4 separate regions of the Homo sapiens genome follow, and regions 2, 3 and 4 are each reported to be linked to region 1. The links are microRNA targets in miRTarBase. Many come from high-throughput screens and were not tested one by one. Region 1 holds a microRNA gene; each other region holds the end of a gene's coding sequence.

The links. The annotated mature microRNA hsa-miR-548h-5p reads AAAAGUAAUCGCGGUUUUUGUC and lies in region 1 at 2,611-2,632, shown strand. An mRNA with a match to its seed (bases 2 to 7 or 8) in the 3' UTR can be bound and repressed. Matches are read on the target gene's strand: a 7mer-m8 pairs with bases 2 to 8, a 7mer-A1 pairs with bases 2 to 7 and ends in A, and an 8mer does both.
Region 2: the mRNA of UBE2D2 is a reported target of hsa-miR-548h-5p. Seed matches in the 3' UTR shown: 7mer-m8 at 2,806-2,812.
Region 3: miRTarBase lists ERH as a target of hsa-miR-548h-5p. Seed matches in the 3' UTR shown: 7mer-A1 at 1,520-1,526.
Region 4: miRTarBase lists TNIP2 as a target of hsa-miR-548h-5p. Seed matches in the 3' UTR shown: 8mer at 1,217-1,224.

Annotation. Positions count from the first base shown.
Region 1 is chr8:27,046,264-27,051,557 of GRCh38, reverse strand. It overlaps MIR548H4 (microRNA 548h-4), which reads left to right and starts at 2,595; the gene lies at 2,595-2,705.
Region 2 is chr5:139,625,650-139,630,943 of GRCh38, reverse strand. UBE2D2 (ubiquitin conjugating enzyme E2 D2) reads right to left here. Exons shown (of 7, transcript NM_003339.3): 7 at 2,510-4,188. The coding sequence ends at 4,143. Among named protein-coding and RNA genes, the nearest start is that of CXXC5, 20 kb to the left of the region's middle.
Region 3 is chr14:69,376,472-69,381,765 of GRCh38, reverse strand. It overlaps ERH (ERH mRNA splicing and mitosis factor), which reads left to right. Exons shown (of 4, transcript NM_004450.3): 4 at 1,126-1,638. The coding sequence ends at 1,228. It also overlaps a transcript of GALNT16 not described here. Among named protein-coding and RNA genes, the nearest start is that of ERH, 19 kb to the left of the region's middle.
Region 4 is chr4:2,737,632-2,742,925 of GRCh38, reverse strand. TNIP2 (TNFAIP3 interacting protein 2) reads left to right here. Exons shown (of 6, transcript NM_024309.4): 6 at 406-1,278. The coding sequence ends at 669. Among named protein-coding and RNA genes, the nearest start is that of TNIP2, 16 kb to the left of the region's middle.

The DNA.
Region 1 (5,294 bases):
GTTTGTCTTATTGTTTGTTTGTTTTGTTCCTATTTCTTTCTTTTCCTTGATTTTCAGTATTGGTTTTTTTACATTAGGTAGAAACCTACTTCTTAGTAGACTGAGATTGCATAGAAGGTTTCTACCAGTCCGTTTGACTAGAGATTTTAAGGTGCCCCTCTTATTTCGGTGTTTGTTCAGACTGCTGTGCCTATACCAGAAGGTCTATGACATCTTATAGTACTAGAAGTCTTATCATGACATTTTTGTTAAAAACTTAGAAATTGATTTCTGAAAAGATTTTACAAATGTAGTGAGGTATTTTCTGTATTTTATCATACTAAATAATCTCCAAATAATCTGATAAATGAGCATAGTGTTCAGAAAAAACCTCTTTTAATGTGATGAATCTTTTATAGATTTAGGCATATTTATGGCAAACCGACTATGCTGTATCAGTCCCCCTTCACACCCCCGAGGCTCAACTGAGATTTACCATTGGAATTAATTGTGAATGGCTTTGTCTCAGGACTATAACATATTCCAAGCTAGAGGTTTCAGGAACAAAGCGTCTGCATCTGTCTTTGTCTTTAGCCCTCACGTGAGGAGCCCATTTATTAGCCTTCTTTATTAATTTTTTATATGGAGAAGTGACTCAACATGTACTAGACAGCCAAATAAATTACTGATCATCTCCTTCTATGCACAGTTTCATATTACCAAAAACTATACGCATATATGAGTTAAACAATTTGGTAATATGTTAACAACATAATATCTAGAAGTATCTCACCACTTAAAACATACGTGCACAAACACACATATTCAATCTTGTTGGCTTTTATTTGTTTCAATACTATAATTCTATTTTTGATATCCCTTCAATTATAATTTAGTTTCCATTGTTATGATATATAAATATATTTGTGCATAGACTATTTGGATATTTTATATTTGCATTAACTAAAAATTTTCACCGCATTTTTGCATGCATAATTTTGTTCTATTTCTTTCTCAATTTTGCTTTAAAAAGTATCTTCATTTTGCAGATGTGCAAGCTGAACAGAGGATTAGAACTTATTTTTTCTAAAAATCTAACAGTTAACTTCTAGCAGCATTGAGACCAGAATATAGATCTTCTGACTCCAGGCTCTTTGCGGTAAACATCAATCCCTCTGTGGCTAATGTCCAAACACAAGATGAAAGAAAACGTGGAGCAGAATACAAAAGGAATTATTTCATGCTGCATTCAGAGGTGTCATTCATACCCAGGAAGCACTTTTAATTACCAATCTGGTGTTAATTTTCTTATCTGTGTCTCATCTGTGACTAAACATTATCCAGCCCAGGCTGATAAATTCTGATATGAATCAGATATTATTTCAAATTTATGCTTTAGCCATACCCATGTAAGCAGTCTCCTACCCCATATATCTCATTTACAGAGACTGTTTATTTGTAGTTAACTTTTAAAAATTCAGATTCATAGAATTACAACTATAAATTGCCAAACATGTATAGAATTATTATTATACAGAAAATAATATCAGTGTCATTATATCCAATTAATCTTTCATTCAGAATCTTGTGCAGAACAGATTAAATTGAGAACTTAATTTTTTACACATTCACGATTTAACCAGAGAATGTGGCTCTATTTTATATTAACAAATAATTTCTTTGTTTATTCAATAAGCAGTATTCATTGTATTATTAAAAAATGGTCTACTCATAAGGTTTTAAAACAATTGAGTCTATTTATTTCTTTTCCCCTCATGTGTTAATATTTTTTTTGCCTAGTGCTTTAGAAAATATATGACCTAGAAAGCAGCCTAATTCTTGTCACAGCTGCAACCTTACTGATGCAGAAAATTTGGCATTTATATACAATGAAGCTGTCTCTAATGCTTTGTCCACCTTCTAGAATCCCCTTTGTTTAATTACTATGTTTGGAGCCTCAAAAAGGGCCTGCTTTCAGGAATAAGTGGATGGGAATGAGGGGATGCTGATGTGTGAATAAAACGGTGATATAAAAGAAAATGGCTAATTCCCCCCTCTGGCTGAAGTCTGTGGAGGTTGTTCTGCCTGTCACTGATAGCTGTGTGAGTCAGTCTCCAATTTGGGAATTACAATCCTGACCCACCCCCACACCAGGATTGCCCCTGCTACACGTTTCCATGGTGCCAAACTTCCCTGTCCTAGCACGTGATGGCAATTGCTTCTGCTTTCCCTGATAGATGTGCAGGGTTGGGGACAATGCTTGCCTTCCCAGAGTCACATCAATATCTCGCACAGAGCTGGCACATGGCGGGCCCTTCATAAATGCTTGTTCAATGAAAGAATAAAGACAGTTTAAAATTTGAGCTCATTTCTGCCTTTTTCTTTTTAATAGCTTTATCAAAGTATAAATTGATAGACAGAAAAACCCCACATGTATTTCATGTGTACAATTTGATGAGCTTGGGTATACATATACACCCATGATATCATCACAATCAAAATGATAAACATATCCATCGCCTCCAAAAGTTTCCTCTGCCCCCTGCTTTTTGTGGCAAGTGTACCACAGAAAACTTGAAGCCAAACTTGTGATCCTTCGTTGTTCCATTTCCAAAGCTATTAGGTTGGTGCAAAAGTAATCGCGGTTTTTGTCATTACTTTAATTACTTTACGTTTCATTAATGACAAAAACCGCAATTACTTTTGCACCAACCTAATACTTGCTATCATCACTTCTTGTCTATTTTCCATTCCTCTTATAAATGTTGTACAAACTAAATCACACTTAAATAAAATAAATGGGAAATAAAGAAAAAGGAAAAAAGGATGAATGCAGGGAAAAAACACTGCCTGGGTCTGTCTTCTGTCATTCCCCAAAATAACAAGCACAAGCCCTGATATTCATATTCCCAGCATTCACCAGTTGCCCTTTTTTTTTTTTGAGATGGAGTTTCACTCTTGTCGCCCAGGCTACAGTGCAATGGCGTGATCTTGGCTCACTGCAACCTCCACCTCCCAGGTTCAAGCGATTCTCCAGCCTCAGCCTCTCGAGTAGCTGGGACTACAGGTGTGCACCACCATGCCTGACTAATTTTTGTATTTTTAGTAGAGATGGGGTTTTGCCATGTTGGCCAGGCTGGTCTCAAACTCCTGACCTCAGGTGATCCGCCAGCCTTGGCCTCCCCAGATCCTGGGGTTATAGGCGTAAGCCACCCTGCCCGGCCCAGCTGACTTTTATCTTGAGTGACAGTTTTAGAGAAAGGAGGAGGAGGAAATTAGTATATATGGCAGTAGTATGACATTTCATGATCTTAAAAATAGATTTCACCAACTGTAGAAGGTGTTCCCTAAACTAACTGCCTGTGTAGTCTTAATCTTCTCAACGTAACAACAGGTAGTCCATATTGTGGCAGGGTTGGGAGGTGGTGATGGAAAGGGGAGGTGTGAATTCCACAAGGTCTGAGACTGGGACAGGAAGTCTCCATTTTGGCAGTGCTGGTGGGGTAAGAAAGGGCTAATTAGAAGAAAATGCAGAAGCTGAAGTTGAAAGATCAGGCAAAGGCAAAATACTGGTCTAGTAGGAAGTCCAGATCATGGTCAAGTTGGATGGCTTCAGAGGGAGCTATTCAGATGGGCTCCAAAAGTGTCAGCGATCTTCTCTGATAAGCTACCCAAGCTCAGGGCAGGGATACTGATGCTCATTTTATGGTAAGAGCCAGCAAATGAGATGCACTGATTCCACGTTTGTGGATTCTAAACAGCATTTTGCCTTCCTTCTCTATAGTCCTCTTTGCAGCACTCCACGTTACCACCACGGGCATCCCAGATGTTCCTCCTTCATAAACACCTCTAGTTGTTCGCTTTCCCAACTCATCCCTTTTCCCAGCCTCAAGGAAGATAAATCAGTTTTGGGCATTAACTTCCATCCAGTGCACTGGGCTGAGGAATCAGCATGGCTGATTCTGCTATCACTTTCACGAAGCCTGGGGGCAAATGAGGGGAGTAGGGAGGGGTTGGGACCAGGGCACACACATATTGTGAATCTAGGAAGAATCTTAGGATTAAAGCTGTTGCATTTTCCACTTGTATTGAAGCCTTGGGGGTAATGGCTATCCCTTTACCACACTCTCCACCTGACTAAGCTCTCTTCAGCAGAACAATCAACCCAGGCTATGGCTGACTTCATCCAGGGAGACCTAAATTTTTCCATTTACTAGGACTTCTTGGACTTTTTTTTTTCTTTTAATAACCATATAGTCAGCTTTACCCACAATGCATCACCTCTTGTCATCCTCAGACACAACGTGAGACATAAGTTGCACTGACCAACTGAATCCTTCTAGTCTCATCCTCTCCTCTGAGATCTTCCTACTGCTTCTTTTACTATTAAGTCCTCTAGAATCCCTATGCTATGAAAAACACAATCCATACAATTTCACCCTGAACATCTCCACTTGGACACAATAGACATCTCAAACTTAACATATCAAAAACAGAACTCCTTTTTTTTTTCTTCTTTTTTTTTGATACAGGGTCTTACTCTGTCATCTAGGCTGGAGTGCAGTGGCGCAATCTCGGGTCACTGCAGCGTCCACTTCCCGGGCTCACGCGATTCTCTTGCCTCAGCCACTTCAGCAGCTGGGATTACAGGTGTGCACCACCATGCCCGGCTAACTATTGTATTTTTAGTAGAGATGGAGTCTTGCCATGTTGAGCAGGCTAGTCTCGGACTCCTCAAGCCATCTGCCCTCCTCAATCTCCCAAAGTGCTGGGATTACAGGCATGAGCCATTGTGCTGCCCTAGAATTCTTTATTCTATTCCAATCCTTTCCCCAATCTATTTCTGCTTCACTTGGCTTCCTATTATTGAACAGTTACACCATTCTTCCAGCTGCTCAGGCCAAAAACTTTGGAGTCATCTGTGCTATCTTTCTTATTTTCTAACCCACATCTAAGTCCTCAGCAAGTCCTGTTGACATTTCCTTGAAAAATACAGCTCAAGTTGAACTGCTTCTCATCACCTCCACAGCTACCCAGAGGAAGCTGACGTATGTTCTCCTAACTCAGCCCCACTTTTTCTGTTTTTGTTCACCTATGCTCTATTCTGTTCCCAGCTACTGAAATGATCCTTTTTTTTTGAGACAGAGTCTCGCTCTGTCGCCCAGTCTGGAGTGCAGTGGTGCAATCTTGGCTCACTGCAAGCTCCACCTCCCAGGTTCACGCCATTCTCCTGCCTCAGCCTCACGAGTAGCTGGGACTACAGGCACCTGCCACCATGCCAGGCTAATTTTTTGTATTTTTAGTAGAGACGGGGT
Region 2 (5,294 bases), not on the chromosome of region 1:
CTCCAGGAGTGCCCCAAAGGAAGTCTATTTCCTCTTGCTGGATGTATAGTGCAAATAGTTTGCTACCTTCAGTTATTTTCATATTAAAAATCTGCTTTCTTGGCTGGGTGTGGTGGCTCATGCCTGTAATCCCAGCACTTTGGGAGGCCAAGGTGGGCAGATCACCTGAAGTCAGGAGTTCAAGACCAGCCTGGACAACATGGTGAAACCGTCTCTACTAAAAATACAAAAATTAGCCAGGCGTGGGTGGCATGTGCCTATAATCTCAGCTACTCAGGAGGCTGAGGCAGGAAAATCACTTAAACTTGGGAGGTGGAGGTTGCAGTGAGCCAAGATCGCACCACTACACTCCAACCTGGGCGACAGTGAGACTCTGTCTCCAAACAACAACAACAAAAAACAAACCTGCTTTCTCCTGCCTAACATCACTCACCAAAATAACCCATCACTTGAAATAGTGTTTCATAAAGGGAAAATGAGGAAATCAAAAGGAGATGGATTCCTAACACTAGTTACAGTTTTCTGTAGGAGTAATAAAAATGCTTACTCCTGATTTGGAAGGAAGGAAAGATGTGTTTATAATCCTGAAGACCTGGGAATGAGAAGAGAGTTTTTTTTGTTTTTTTTTTAAGACTGAGTTTTGCTCTTGTCGCCCAGGCTGGAGTGCAATGGCGCGATCTCGGCTCACCACAACCTCCGCCTCCCGGATTCAAGCGATTCTCCTGCCTCAGCCTCCTGAGTAGCTGGGATTACAGACATGTGCCACCATGCCCGGCTAATTTTGTGTTTTTAGTAGACACGAGGTTCCTCCATGTTGGTCAGGCTGGTCTTGAACTCCTGACCTCAGGTGATCCGCCCACCTTGGCATCCCAAAATGCTGGGATTACAGGCATGAGCCACAGGGCCCAGCTGAGAGTTCTCCTCTTCAAAACTTACCCTGGGTAGTTAAGGGGTGCCATACAGCACACAGAGACAAAGCCAGAGTTTCACCTTAATTACAGACAAGGGACAGTTTATAGGCATTCCAGCCATAATTTAGAAATAATCCATTTCTCCTGACAAGCTACCCAGGTCTCAAAATAACTTGTTGAAACAAAGAGGAATGATTCAGAAAGCAGAGTATTTTAGCAGTTGGAAGTGGAAAAAGAAGGCCTCTATTGCTAGGTTAGTGTAGAGAAAGGGTCTCTCTCTGACAACTACCTTTTCCTTCTCTTCACAGACCTTCCTAACTTCTCTCTCCCCACCCCTACCGCCCTCCTTCCAAGTCTCTGTACTACTCAAAGTGCATAAACTCGCAGGACAATGATACCTTTGACTACTGATTCGCCAATAGCAAAGCATATAAGTATCTGAAGTGACTTCATTTTACCAAAAGACACTGCCCCAGCTTTAACTTGACAAAGTACTTTGGGCTATTAAGAAGCAAACAAAAGGAAACCATACACTTGACGTTCTCCTGTAACTTTTCCAAGATAATCAAGGTTGCTACAGACTGGATTTTACATACGACAAAGTCATAGAAACTTCTGTGAAGAGCAATGTGGTCCAGATGAAAACAACCCTGAGGGATTTTTTGTTGTTGTTGTTGTTTTTGGTGAGTGGGAAAGGTGGCTTCTCTCACTGGGCTTTCTTTCTGGCCAGGCACATATACACAGACTGGACCAAAGAAGCTTCATACTCAAATGGGCAAGACCAAACCCCATTCAAGGGCCTAATGTTGTTTGTGACCATCCAAACCCCTTCAATTGGCACCTGCACACCTGGAGGATGGCTTTCATTTGGCACTTAAAAATACTTAAGAACACTCTTGTGAAAATATCCATATTATGATCTAATAAATGGTAATAAGCTGGCTGCTCTCTAAGATGACAGGCAAATACAGAATGAGCTTTCAGGATCTGTGCAACTGACCCACGGTCAACAGTATGTAGTTAATAGCAAGCCAATAATTGATGGAAGGCTGGGTATGGTGGCTGTCTCTAGTCCCAGCACTTTGGGAGGCTGAGACAAGAGGATCACTTGAGCCTAGGAGTTCAGGACCAGCTTGGGCAACATAGTGAGACTCCTGTCTCTAAAAAAAATTTAAAAATTAGCCAGGTGTGGTGGCATGTACCATAAGTCCCAGCAACTTGGGAGGTTGAGGTAGGGGGATTGTTCGAGCCTAGAAGGTTGAGGCTGCAGTGAGCTGTGCTGTCATGACTCCGACTGCACTCCAGCTTAGGCAAGAGAATGAGACCCTGTCCCTCTCTTAAAAAAAAAAAAAAAAAAAAAAAAAGATGAAGTCCCACTTGCCCATAATACTGAGAATACAGGGTGATTTTAGGCTTAAGCTAAATTCTAACTCCTTTCCCCACAACTGTTAACAGTTAAGCCTTTTCTGCAAAGTCAAGGATGCTAATAAGAGATGCTTGAAATGCTTATAAGAGAACTGTAAGAGGTTTTGGGTTTTATCACACAAGTTCCAAGGTGGAGGAGCAGTGACAGTGAGAGATAAGACAAGGTGAACAAGTTTAAAACCAAAAGCAGTGGACATTTATTCCTTAACTTTTGTGCAAGAGTGTAAAGATGCATTTGAAAGAACCTGATGGCTAGAGCATCAGCCATGGCTTTCAGGTTGGCCTAGTTTACAATTAGGAAAAGAAGGGGGGAAAAAAGGTAACTTGCCTAGTTCACATGAATGATGTTTCTGGCAAACACAGTTGTTTACAAGTTTCAAGCTATATTTTACTAGGGTCAAGGGAAGACTTCAAAAAGCCACATACAGTACAATTTAAAATTGTGTGAACATCCTGCAAATGTTAGTGCAAAGTAATTATGTAGACTCTCCAAACAAGACTGTGCTCTTGTTTCCCAGGTTTGGTCAATGTTGCTCTTTTATAATTACAATCACAGAAGCTTAACTTACCAAATAGCAATGCCTCTGTGTTTTATGTCCTATGTACCAAGGGAATGTCACAAGGTTTTGATGAAATGCAGCTTAGTTTCATTAATAAAGCAAATTTCTTATTGAATTTAACAATCAAGTTCCTGGAATGCTGCATGTGTTGTTTCATGGAAATGCTCTTAAGCTTATGCCTCTAACTTGTTCAATAAAATTACTCGTAAGATATCCTTTTTACAATGTAACTGGAATTGTTTCATGATCTTAAAATGCAACCAGTATAAATGAACATTTCAGAAGTGGGAGAAAATCCACCACTAATCTCAGCTAGACAAACTTCTTAAAAATGAAAAAGCCTATTCACACAAAATTATATGTAATGACTGTAGTAACCAGTTTATTACACAGATTAATCATTCTTGAAAGTACAAGCTCCAGAGGAGCAATTGGGTCTTTAAATATACACAAGTATTTCCATCAAATGAATTTTCACCCTTACATCCAAATAGACCTAAGCGGTTAAAAACATAAGAAAAATAAGAGCTATTAGCTATGTATTAACTGAGAAACCACATACAAACCAAAGAATATGGAAGAGAGAAAGAAGGGCTGAAAGGCCAAAGGTTGAAGGGGTAGGGAGATGTAAAAGAGTTGGGAACAAAGCCCATCACACTTGATGTACTAATAGCTCCAATCCATTTAAATGTTGACCAGTTAAACTTAGACCTTAAAATGCAGGATGTGGGTAGAGTTTAATCTGGTTGGTCATAACTTTCACCTAAGACGTAGCTCCTTCGGAATAAAATGAATACAGACACAGCTTCATGTTCTTCACCTTGCTTTTCATAACTGTTTTGAGTTTAAATGGATTCCACTTAAAAATAATCTCCTATAGGTGAGTGGAGCCTTTTCTTTCCCATCCAAGCACACACCATACCCACCACCCCCCTCACACCTTGCTGTTATCCAAATTTAAGTCAATAAGAAAAGCTTTTAGTCTCACACCTAGGTAATGCCTGTAGAACTGGCTTGTCACACACACACTTCTCTGCTAGGAGGCAATGTTGGTACAGAAGTACAGTATTTCTAGTTTGTTGTTCCAAGTATGTACAACACGCAGCACTGCTGTATCAGGTAAACATGTGCACAGGGGAAGATGAGGCGTGGGCTCATAGAAAGCAGTCAAATGGAAATCAAAAGGACTTTCTCTTTCAGAGTTCCCCTATCTTTATTTGTAGAGGTTATCCAATAATTTCTTTAATTACATCGCATACTTCTGAGTCCATTCCCGAGCTATTCTGTTGTACCTGTACACACAAAGAGAAGCTTGGCTTAACATAGGTGTGGAGTCAGTAAGCAACAGATTCCATTCATTATCCCATCAAGTAACTTGAAGAGAGTAGCTTATAGGACATTCAAGGAAAGGCCCCTTTCTATCCCAAATTTCTGATAAGGATTAATTCAATGATAATGGGAAGGAGCTGTAAAATGTGAAAGTCTCCTTTAATTGCTACTTATAGAGGGTTCTGATTAAATTTTAGTATTTGTTGGCATATACCTTATTCCATACTTGATTGGCCTATTTCTACAAAAGATGTCCACTCAATTCATTCATTTAAAGTACTTGAAATTATATGATTCTACATTACATAGTTCTTGAACTCATATACTAATAATGATTAAACCGACAGAAGGCTGGGCATGTTGGCTCACACCTGTAATCCCAGCACTTTGGGAGGCTGAGTCGGGTGGATCACTTGAGCCCAGGCGTTTCACACCAGCCTGGGCAACATGATAAAACCCTGTCTCTACAAAAAAATACAAAAATTAGCAGGGTGTGGTGGCGCATGACTATAGTCCCAGCTACTCAGGAGGCTGAGGTGGGAAGATCGTTTGAGCTCAGGAGGCAGAGGTTGCAGTGAGCTGAGATTGCAATACTGTACCATAGCCTGGGTGACAGAGTGAGGCTCTGTCTCAAAAAAAAAGGGGGAAAAAAAACCAAACTTTCCTTTCATATCAATAAAACAATTGGTTCTGGTAGAACTAATTTCAACAATTTGGTTGACAAAATGAATGGGTTTATTGCTTCAGAAGAACATTTGAATAAAGTAAGCAGAGCAAATGATTCTATAATTCTCCTATTAAAAAACGGGTGCTAGGCCGGGTGTGGTGGCTCACGCCTGTAATCCCAGCACTTTGGGAGGCTGGAGCAGCTGGATCACTTGAGGTCAGGAGTTCCAGACCAGCCTGGCCAACATGGCAAAATCCCGTCTCTACTGAAAACACAAAAATTAGCCAGGCATGGTGATGTGCGCCTGTAATCCCAGCTACTCAGGAGGCTGAGGCACAGGAATCACTTGAGCCTGGGAGGCAGAGGCTGCAGTGAGCCAAGATTGTGCCACTGCATTCCACC
Region 3 (5,294 bases), not on the chromosome of region 1:
AGTGAGCCAAGATGGCACCACTGCACTCCAGACTGAGTTACAGAGTGAGATTCTGTCTCAAAAAAAAGCAGGGGTCGGTGGTGGGGGTGGTGGGAAGTGAGGATAATTGTACCTACTCACAGGGTTGTAAAAATGAGTTAATTCAGATAAGAATTTAAAGCGACACCCAGTACTCTGTGACATCTTACTAGATACTACTCACAGTCCCATTGGAGTTTTACTGCTAATGCTAGTCTGTGTACTCCTTTTCGTTCTGATTAGAGATATTTTGGAGCTTACTGTATCTTCTGATAATTCTTCTCCATAGGCCTCTAGCATTATTTATTTTAAAAAGCAAATCCTAAAATATAGGTTTAAGATTTCCTTAATACTTTACAGGGGGAAGGAAATTAGCAAGAAATCTTTGTTGCCAGTACATGTTTTTTAAAGGTTTTTTAGTTAATTCAGAATAAACATTGCAAATCTAAAGTTTGTTCTAGTATTGTTGTTTTTGTTTTTTTGAGATGGAGTCTCACTCACAGGAGTGCAGTGGCACGATCTCGGCTCACTGCATCCTCCACCGGTTGAAGCAATTCCCTTGCCTCAGCCTCCTGAGTAGGCAGGACTACAGGCGTGCACCACCATGCCCAGCTAATTTTTGTATTTTAGTAGAGACAAGGTTTCACCATGTTGGCCAGGCTAGTCTTGAACTCCTGACCTCAAGTGATCACCCGCCTCAGCCTCCCAAAGTGCTGGGATTACAGGCATGAGCCACTGCACCCAGCCAATTTTTTTGTTGTTGTTTTTTAATCACTAAAGGAACCATAAAAATAGAAACTATGTAGGAGGAAGAACACATGGTTTCTGGTCATACTCTGTCAAGAAGTAGATATGTAACATATTGGGCATTTAACTTAAAAATTCTAAGTCATGTTTTCTTTTTCCACTATAAGATTGTACTAGGTGATATAAAGTTCATGTCACTTAAAATTCAACGACTGTGTAAGTAGCTCTTTCAGCTTTTCATTAAGTTCATTTTTGGAAATGTGCACATCTATGCCATCATTGGGCAGTTATAATTTGGGGATTTAAACACCTGGCAGTGATTGACCACTGTGACTTTGCTTATTCCCTTTCTCTCCTCAGTTACCGAGCTGATACCCAGACATACCAGCCTTATAACAAAGACTGGATTAAAGAGAAGATCTACGTGCTCCTTCGTCGGCAGGCCCAACAGGCTGGGAAATAATTGTGTTGGAAGCACTGGGGGGGTTGGGGTGGGCTTGGAACACAGGTGTGTACAGCGTGCTGTAGTGGAAGTTTTGTATCATAGTAATCCTGTTTCCACTTTGTTATACTCTAGCCAAGATTGACTGTATTAGATGAAATGTGAGGATCTTGTTCAATCGGAAACCCCCGTTACCTCCTCTTTTTCTTTCTCTTTCTTTTTTTTTTTTTACTTAAACATTTTTATGATGATTTAGATGGAAGTTGTTCTTCGTCACTTAATGTTGGTTCCAGTCCTTCAACTGTTCATATCTACTTTATAACATTCACATACTAACCCTTCTTCAAGATGGGGTGGGGGGTGGAAATGCAGTTTAGCCATGTCCTCAAGATAAAGTCTTGGTAAAAATAAATAAATGTCCTTTAGTTATATTTTCTCCCTGAGTGCTTTTTTTTTTTTTGTCTTTGAACATTGAATTTTCTTGCAAAGCATTTTTTCATTTTAAGTTTAAAAACCAATAGCTGCTACACAAAGAATTTGAAGAAAGTTTAAGTAGTGCGCAACACATTTTGCTGTGAAGCTAATAACACTTTTACCTCACTTTTCCAGCATAATTAAATGAATCTTAATTATAGCTCCAAGGTTTGTACCTACTATTGACGCAAACGTTATAAATGACTTTCTGGTGATAAAGCTTGTCCGCAGCAGCAGCAGCAGACAGATGAACTTCTTAGTGTTGATCAGATGAAGTACTCTTTCTAGGAGGTCTTTGTGCCCTTTTCAGAGCCTTCAGTTGGATACTAGTTACCCACTACTGTAGGGAAGCTATAAGGGCAAGGGAAAAACCACAAAAAAGTGTAAGATAGTCTTGTCTCTTTTTTGTTGTTGTTTTTTTGAGACAGTCTCACTCTGTACCCAAGCTGGAGTGTACTTCCAATCATGTCAATCATGTATTTTCAATCAGCAAGTACATGAGCACTCTCTGATTCTGCTATTAGCACTTTACCAACAGCCAGTGATATCTTGACACAGCATAAGATTGAAAGTTTTTTGGAAGGCTCATGATTGGTTTAATATCCCCCTGTTCCTGCCTCTACTTGCACATTAGGGCCTTAACTATTTTTTTTGTTGTTTTATGCAAGACAAAATTTTACCTAGAACATACTCATATGTGCTCAGTTTTTCTATAGAATAATCTGGTTAATGAAATGTTATCACTGTACCAAGAGATTATTAGAATTTTAGGGTACCTGACAAAATTAAGTAGAGTTGTAGTTAATGTTTCACTGTGAAACCAACCAAATTTTAAAGCTAAAATAGGCCGGGTGCGGTGGCTCACGCCTATAATCCCAGCACTTTGGGAGGTTGAGGTGGACAGATTATTTGAGGTCAGGAGTTCAAGACCAGCCTGACCAGCATGGTGAAACCCTGTCTCCACTAAAAATACAAAAAGTAGCCGGGCATGGTGGCACACGCTTGTACTATCCCAGCTACTTAGGAGGCTGAGGCAGGAGGATCCCTTGAACCAGGGAGACAGAGGTTGCAGTGAGTGAGCCGAGATTGCACCACTGCACTCCAGCTTGGGTGACAGAGACTCTGTCTCAAAAAAAAAATAAATAAAGCTAAAATAATCTCACACAAAAAGAAATAGATCCAAAAGTAATCTGATTGTCCTGTTTTTCATTTGGCCTGTCCTGCTAAAATAGTTTTATTTCTTTAACAAATAGAGGATCTTTGGCTTTATTTATTTATTAATTTATTTTTTAAATACTCTAGAGCAGATCTGAAGGGAATGAGTTCCCTTGATTCTCAGATATAGTACCATTTCTGGTGTTGGGCTTACAGAGGAAAATATGAGAAAGGAATGTGAGAAAGTATCTGGGTTCTAGATGTTGAGTGATGAGAACAAAAAGAAGGGGAGCAGTGTTTGGAATCATTAAAAGCTTAAGGAAGACTAGAACTGGAATAAATACAAAGAAACATTTGTCTATGTCCCATAATACACAGAAAAAGAGCCTAAAGTAGCCTTTTTGTGAAGGTGAAATGTGCAATGAAAGTTTCTGTGGTTTGGCCTAGGTACAACCACTGTCCTTGTGTTAGAGATTTAGAGTGTTGGTTGATTGGCCTTTCCCCAACCACAAGTAAAACAGGTTTGATTTCCGCTTATTAAGTGATATTTTATACTGCTACATAAAGGTGAAACCTCCCAGACAGATTATACAATTTCCGATTCTCTAATCCAGATTTATAATCTAAATTTATATACCTGAGAATTTCTAAAATATTTCTTGATAATGGCCATTTCTGTCCTGTAGTGCTTGATTTAAGAGGTCCCAGGAGTATAAAAAGAGTTCAACGATCTCACTTCCCTTCCAGTTCTCTGGCTTAATATATTTCCAGCAACTTACTAAATGCTCAAACAGGTTATGTGTCTTAACTCCCATTGTTGGGACAGAAGTAGTAGTGAACTGTTTTACTTTCAGCAAGAGAGGGACTTAAGGGATGAGCAAATAATTTTGTACTGTCCTAAAAGCAGACCAGGCTGGGTTGGGGGAGAGAGGACAGGGTAGTTTTCTCAGTATGATTGTCAACTTTACATCAGGATGGTCTTCCTTTATCAAATTGTTTTAACTAATCATTTGAAGGTTGGAATGAAAATCAGGATTGATACATAAATTGATTAATGTTACTATATTTGTAAGGATACTTTTATGTTCATGTTCTTTTTTTTTTTTTTTTTTTTTTTTTTTTTTTGAGACAGTCTCACTCTATCACCCAGGCTGTAGTGCAGTGGTGCAATCATGCCTCACTGCAGCCTCAATCTCCCAGGCTCAGGTGATCCACCTTAGCCTCCTGTGTAGCTGGGATTACAGGTGCACACCACCATGGCCAGCTAATTGTTTAAATTATTTTTTGTAGAGATGAGGTCTCCTTATGTTGCCCAGGCTGGTCTTGAGATCCTGGACTCAAGTGATCCACCTGCCTTGGCCTCCCAAAGTGTTGGGATTACAGGCATAAACCACTGCACCCAACCTAAGGATACTTTTGGAAGAAATATTAATTTATATGTTAGCATAATGATACTAGTATTGCCACTTAGACATAGCATTTTACTGCCTAGGAAATATTTCTACATATTTATCATCACAGCAACCCTTTGAGATAGGAAATAATTATATCTCTATTAATGGTAAAAATAAAAATAAAAATTTAGATTGCCTAAGTGATTCACCAGATCACAAAGCAATACCAAAATTTTGCTAGATGAAAAAGACAAGGTTTTAACCTCAAAGACCTTGAAGGGGAGCCCCATAATATGAATAGCTGTGCTAAATAATGGACCTCTAATTCTTGTCAAAGGGACCTTTTTAGACTCAATCAAATATTTGGATTCACAAGACCTGAAGAGGTCTTACTTGGCACCAATTTAATCAAAAGCACAGGGGACACAGAAAACAGCTTGCCAGCCCAGCATCATCAAGTGTTTCTCTTCCACGGGAGTATTCCTCATGGCAGTTCACACAGCCATCCAAGAATTATCCTCCGAACACACGGAAACACACAGTAGCTCAGATGCAAGAGATAAGACTTAGGTAAGTGCAAGAGCTACCCCAACTTAGAAGCTTCATGTACAACAAGAGCCACTAACTCTTGTAATAGCTTCATGGACATAGTTTCTAGGTCCCTGCAAGGAGCATGCCGCATTTACAAGTCATTGTATTCAGAGAAACACAAGGCCATGTCTTCCCATCAGGTATTCATTGTTTCTCCCAGTCTAGGTGTAATTTATCACATAAGGGCCATGTTTCTCATAAGCAGTCTTGTCTAGTAATACATTGCACCATTGTGTTTCCTCAGGAACAGAGCTACAATGTTAACCCAAGTTGACCATGAGTCAGTGTATTACATAATGGTGCAATGTATTACTAGACCAGATTGCTTATGAGAAGCATGGCCCTAAGTGGTTACCTTGGGTTAACTTTCTAGCTCTGTTCCTGAGGAAACATAATGGTGCAATGTATTACTAAACAGGATACTGATGGAATGATTAACCTCAGAAGAAAAAGTGACATGGAAAGTTGAAAGA
Region 4 (5,294 bases), not on the chromosome of region 1:
CAGAGGAGGTGCAGAGTAGGGTTGGTACTCAGTTTGCCCAGCTCCCCACCAGAGGCTCTGCCACCTCCACTCTGTGGTGGCCTGTGGGCCACGTCATCAGGGCCACCTTCTCAGTCAGGTCTCCTGGGGCCGATAGGTCCAACTGAACAGGACTTCCACCAAGGGGCTGGGGGGTGGACCACGCCAGGGCCTACTTCTTCATGAGCACATGACGGAGCGTGTGTGTGATCCTCAGTCATTCACTGAGCGCCCCCTTGTCTGGGCTCTGGGGCGCAGCAGGAAGCAAAGTGAGGGGCTGAAGTTCCGCTCAGGGATAGGTGAAGTGCCTCTGGTTGCTGGAACCTGAGACCTGGCTTTGTGACCGTCAGCACAGCCCACGTATATACACCCTTGCCTTTTCTCCAGGATTCTCGAGAGCCAGACGCCGGCCGGATTCACGCTGGGAGCAAAACTGCCAAGTATTTGGCCGCCGACGCATTAGAGCTTATGGTGCCTGGTGGCTGGAGGCCTGGGACTGGGTCCCAGCAGCCAGAACCCCCTGCAGAGGGCGGGCATCCTGGCGCGGCCCAGAGAGGCCAGGGGGACCTTCAGTGCCCTCACTGCCTGCAGTGCTTCAGTGACGAGCAAGGGGAAGAGCTCCTCAGGCATGTGGCTGAGTGCTGCCAGTGACCGAGACTCACCCGTGCCCTTGCGGCCTCCTGGCCCGGTGCAGCTGCCCTCAGGGACAGGGTGGGTGCTCTCAGATGCCATGGGTTGAGCTCTACTGAGAGCCAAGGCCCCTAGAATAGTTGCGGGGCACTCTGATCGTTCACTTTGGTCCCTTTGGCTATGGAACAGGCTGGGTCACAGGGAACTGCCAGTGAGGCTGGAGGCTGGAGGTGGAGATGGGGTCAGGAACATCTGGCAGAGGGAGGTCCCAGTCTGTGTCTCCATCAGGCTTAAGCCAGAGCTATCTGGTGCTGGTGTGCCAGCCCCTCCCCCAGCCTGCCTAGAAAGGGGTGGCTGCCTGAGGGAGTCACTTGTATGGTCCCCAGGGTGGGAGCCCCATCCTGTTCTATGGAATAAAGCGTCGCCTCTCTGCCTCGAACCAGTCAAATGGAGTATTGCGGCTGCACGTCACACTAGGGTGGCCACCCCCGCCATTGCGAGCCACATGTCTGCACTGAGAAACTGCATTTCAGTAGCATTTGTCATCCAGCCGGAAGTTAAAGCACACTTACTTTATTCACCTATTTTTATAATAAACGTTCTTGCTGCTGTGACTGCTCTGAGAATTTGTGTTGGAAGCTGGGGTGCAGGGACTGAACAGTATTTACAGCAGCTGGCATGGGAAAACACTCCTGCTGTTGCCTTCTGCCAGGGCACCAAGACAAGGGGGTCAGTGGGAGCCTGGCTGTATTAGGGTTCTCTAGAGGGACAGAACTAATGGAACAGATAGATATATAAAGGGGAGTGTGTCAAGTATTAACTCACACGATCACAAGTTCCCACAATAGGCCGTCTGCAGGCTGAGGAACAAGGAGAGCCAGTCCCGAGTTCCGAAACTGAAGAACTTGGGAGTCCTATGTTCAAGGGCAGGAAGCATCCAGCACGGAGCAAGATGTAGGCTGGGAGGCCAGGCCAGTCTCTCTTTTCACGTTTTTCTGCCTGCTTTATTCTGGCCACGCTGGCAGCTGATTAGATGGTGCCCACCCCGATTGAGGGTGGATCTGCCTTCCCCAGCCCACTGACTCAAATGTTAATCTCCTTGGCAACACCCTCACAGACACACCCAGATCAATACTTCCTATCCTTCAATCAAGTTGACACTCAGTATTAACCATCATGAGTCCACCCCTTGTCTACTTGAACCCATACATAGTCCTGAGATAATAATCTTCAAATAAAGACAAAAATAAAGTCACAATTATGCCTAACATAATACAACTATCCTTCATACAACCGGAAACGCACCAGTCCCCAACCCAAATAATACTATTACATAAAGGTAACAATACTTTACTTTTTGTTTTTTGAAACGGAGTTTCTTGTTCCCCAGGCTGGAGTGCAGTGGTGTGATCTCGGCTCAGCTCACTGCTACCTCCGCCTCCCAGGTTCAAGTGATTCTCCCACCTCAGGCTCCCGATTAGCTAGGATTACAGGCGCCTGCCACCACGCCCGGCTAATTTTTGTATTTTTAGTAGAGAAGGGGTTTCGCCACGTTGGCCTGGCTGGTTTCGAACTCCTGACGTCAGGTGATCAGCCTGCCTCTGCCTCCCAGCGTGCTGGGATTACAGGCATGAGCCACCACACCCGGCCAAGGTGACTGACGGTACTTAAATGCTGATGTGAAGTCAATAAATCTTATGTCACACGATAAAGGAGAAAGGAAATGAAGAGATTTTCTTAGTACTAGCGTATACATGCACAAACGTTTTTTATCAAAAGGAGGAAATACTCACAGCAATTACAGTCCTGGTTCCTGCAGCTGGTCATGTGGTCATAGCCGTTATTGATGCCTACCTTCTTCTACTACCCATTCTGTATTCCCTTTGCCTTCAGCAAGCACCTCAGCAGATGGTGGTTTTTTTCCTGGTGGAGTGACCCGAACCTTCATTCCTGATTTGTAGTCCTGCCTGGATTGGGCTGTTGTAGTTTCCCATTGACCTTAATCACAGGGCATTAGATAATACTAAGAGATGTCCTAATGGATCTCCTGTATTCCATGCATACTCTTCCTTACCTCTGTTGTGGAGTAAGAGACTAATTCCATCTTTTTTTTTTTTTTGAGATGGAGTGTCGCTCTGTCGCCCAGGCTGGAGTGCAGTGGTGCAATCTCGGCTCTCTGCAGGCTCCGCCTCACGGGTTCACACCATTCTCCTGCCTCAGCCTCCCGAGTAGCTGGGACTACAGGCACTTGCCACCATGCCCAGCTAATGTTTTGTATTTTGTGTAGTAGAGACGGGGTTTCACCGTGTTAGCCAGGATGGTCTCAATCTCCTGACCTCATGATCCGCCCGCCTTGGCCTCCCAAAATGCTGGGATTACAGGCGTGAGCCACCACACCCGGCCGAGACTGATTCCATCTTGATAGTCCAGATCAATCACTCCAGCCAACACCATAACTCCTCCTTAGCCTGTTGACTTAAAGGTAGGAGGAGCCCAGAGTGTCCAGGTGGCAATCTTAACTTCTAGCTTAATGGAATAGTTGTGTCTCCTGGTGGCAGCGTTCCTCCCTCTGGAACTAAGACCTCTAGGCCAGCAGAACATAATGTCATGGGAACAGGGAGCAAACATTTTGCTAGTGGATCACTAGGGGTGATGGCGAGTGGTGCCACTTCCACTTGAGTGCCTTGATTCCTGGACCCGTGCATCCTGGTTAAGGGAGAAACAATATCATATCTTGGATGCTGATTCAGAGCATACATGGCCTTCTGGAGAACTTGGTCCCAGCCCTGCAAAGTATTGTCACCTAGTTGGTGTTGTAATTGTGACTTCAGAAGGCCATTCCACCGTTCTATCAATCCAGCTGCTTCAGGATGATGGGGAACGTGGTAAGATCAGTGAATTCCATGAGCATGAGCCCACTGCCACACTTCTTTAGCTGTAAAGTGAGTGCCTTGCTCAGAGGCAATGCTGTGTGGAACACCCTGATGGTGGATGAGGCATTCCTTGAGTCCATGGATGGTAGTCTTGGCAGAAGCACTGCGTGCAAGATAGGCAAACCCACATCAGGAGTAAGTGTCTATTCCGGTGAGGACAAACCTCTGCCCTTTCCATGATGGAAGAGGTCCAATATAATCAACCTGCCACCAGGTAGCTGGCTGATCACCCTGAAGAATGGTGCCATATTGAGGCTCAGTGTTAGTCTCTGCTGCTGCCAAATTGGGCACTCAGCAGTGGCTGTAGACAAGTCAGCCTTGGCTAGTGGAGGTCCATGTTGCTGAATCTCCATGTGTAATCTCCATCCCTGCCACCATGGCCACTCTGTTCATGGGCCCATTGGGCGATGGCAGGTGGCTGGGGAAAGAGGCTGAGTGGTGTCCACAGAACAGGTCATCCTACCCACTTGATTATTAAAATTCTCCTCTGTTGAGGTCATCCGCTGGTGAGCACTCACAGGGGATACAAATATCTTCAGTTTTTGACCACTTGGAGAGGTCCATCCACATACCTCTTCCTCAAATTTGTCACCAATTTTCCAATAATGCTTCTTTCAAGCCCCTGACCATTGTCTTCCAAGTCCCATCCAGGCAAACCATTGTCTACAGCCCATGAATCAGTACATAATCACACACCTGGCCATTTCTCCTCCCATGCAAAGTGCACAACCAGGTGCACCGCTCCAACTTCTGCCCACTGGGAAGATTTCCCTTCACTGCTGTCCTTCAGGCATGTCCTAAAAAGAGGCTGTATTGCTGCAGCTGTCCACTTTTGGGTGGTGCCTTCATATCGTGCAGAAGCATCTGTGAGCCAGGCCCTAGTCTTCTCTTCCTCTGTCCACTGATCATAGGGAACTCCTCATGAGGCCATTGGTGCAGGCTGGGGGAGAGGAGGCAGGGTGGCAGGAGTGGAGACCATGGGCATTTGAGCTACTTCTTCATGTAACTTGCTTGTGCCTTCAGGACCTGCTTGAGCTCAATCACATATGTGCCACTTCTCTTTGATGATGGAATGCTGCTGTGCACGACCTACTTTATGGTGATGGGTCAGAAAGCACCCAGTTTATGATGGGCAGTTCAGGTCATATGGTGACTTGATGACCCATAGTCAAACATTCAGTTTCCACCAAAGCCCAGTAACAGGCCAAGAGCTGTCTCTCAAAAGGAGAGTAGTTAGCTGCAGAAGATGGCAGGGCCATCTTCTCCAGATCCTACAGGCCTCCGCTGTGATTCACCTATGGGGTGAAAATCCTACAGGCCTCCACTGTGATTCACCTATGGGGGCCTGCCAAAGGCTCCAAACAGCATCCCTATCTGCTACTGACGCCTCAAGCACCATTGGATCGCTGGGTCATATGGCCCAAGTGGCAGAGCAGCTTGCACAGCAGCCTGGACCTGTTGCAGAGCCTTCTCCTGTTCTGGACCCCACTCAAAACTGGCAGCCTTTTAGGTCACTAGATAAATGGGCTGGAGTAACACATCTAAGTGAGGAATGTGTTGCCTCCAAAATCCAAATAGACCCACTAAGCATTGTGGATCTTCTTGGTTGTAGGAGGGACCAAATGAGGCGACTTATCCTTCACCTTGGAAGGAATATCTTGACAGGCCCCACACCACGGGAGCCCTAGAAAGTTTACTGAGATAGAAGTTCCC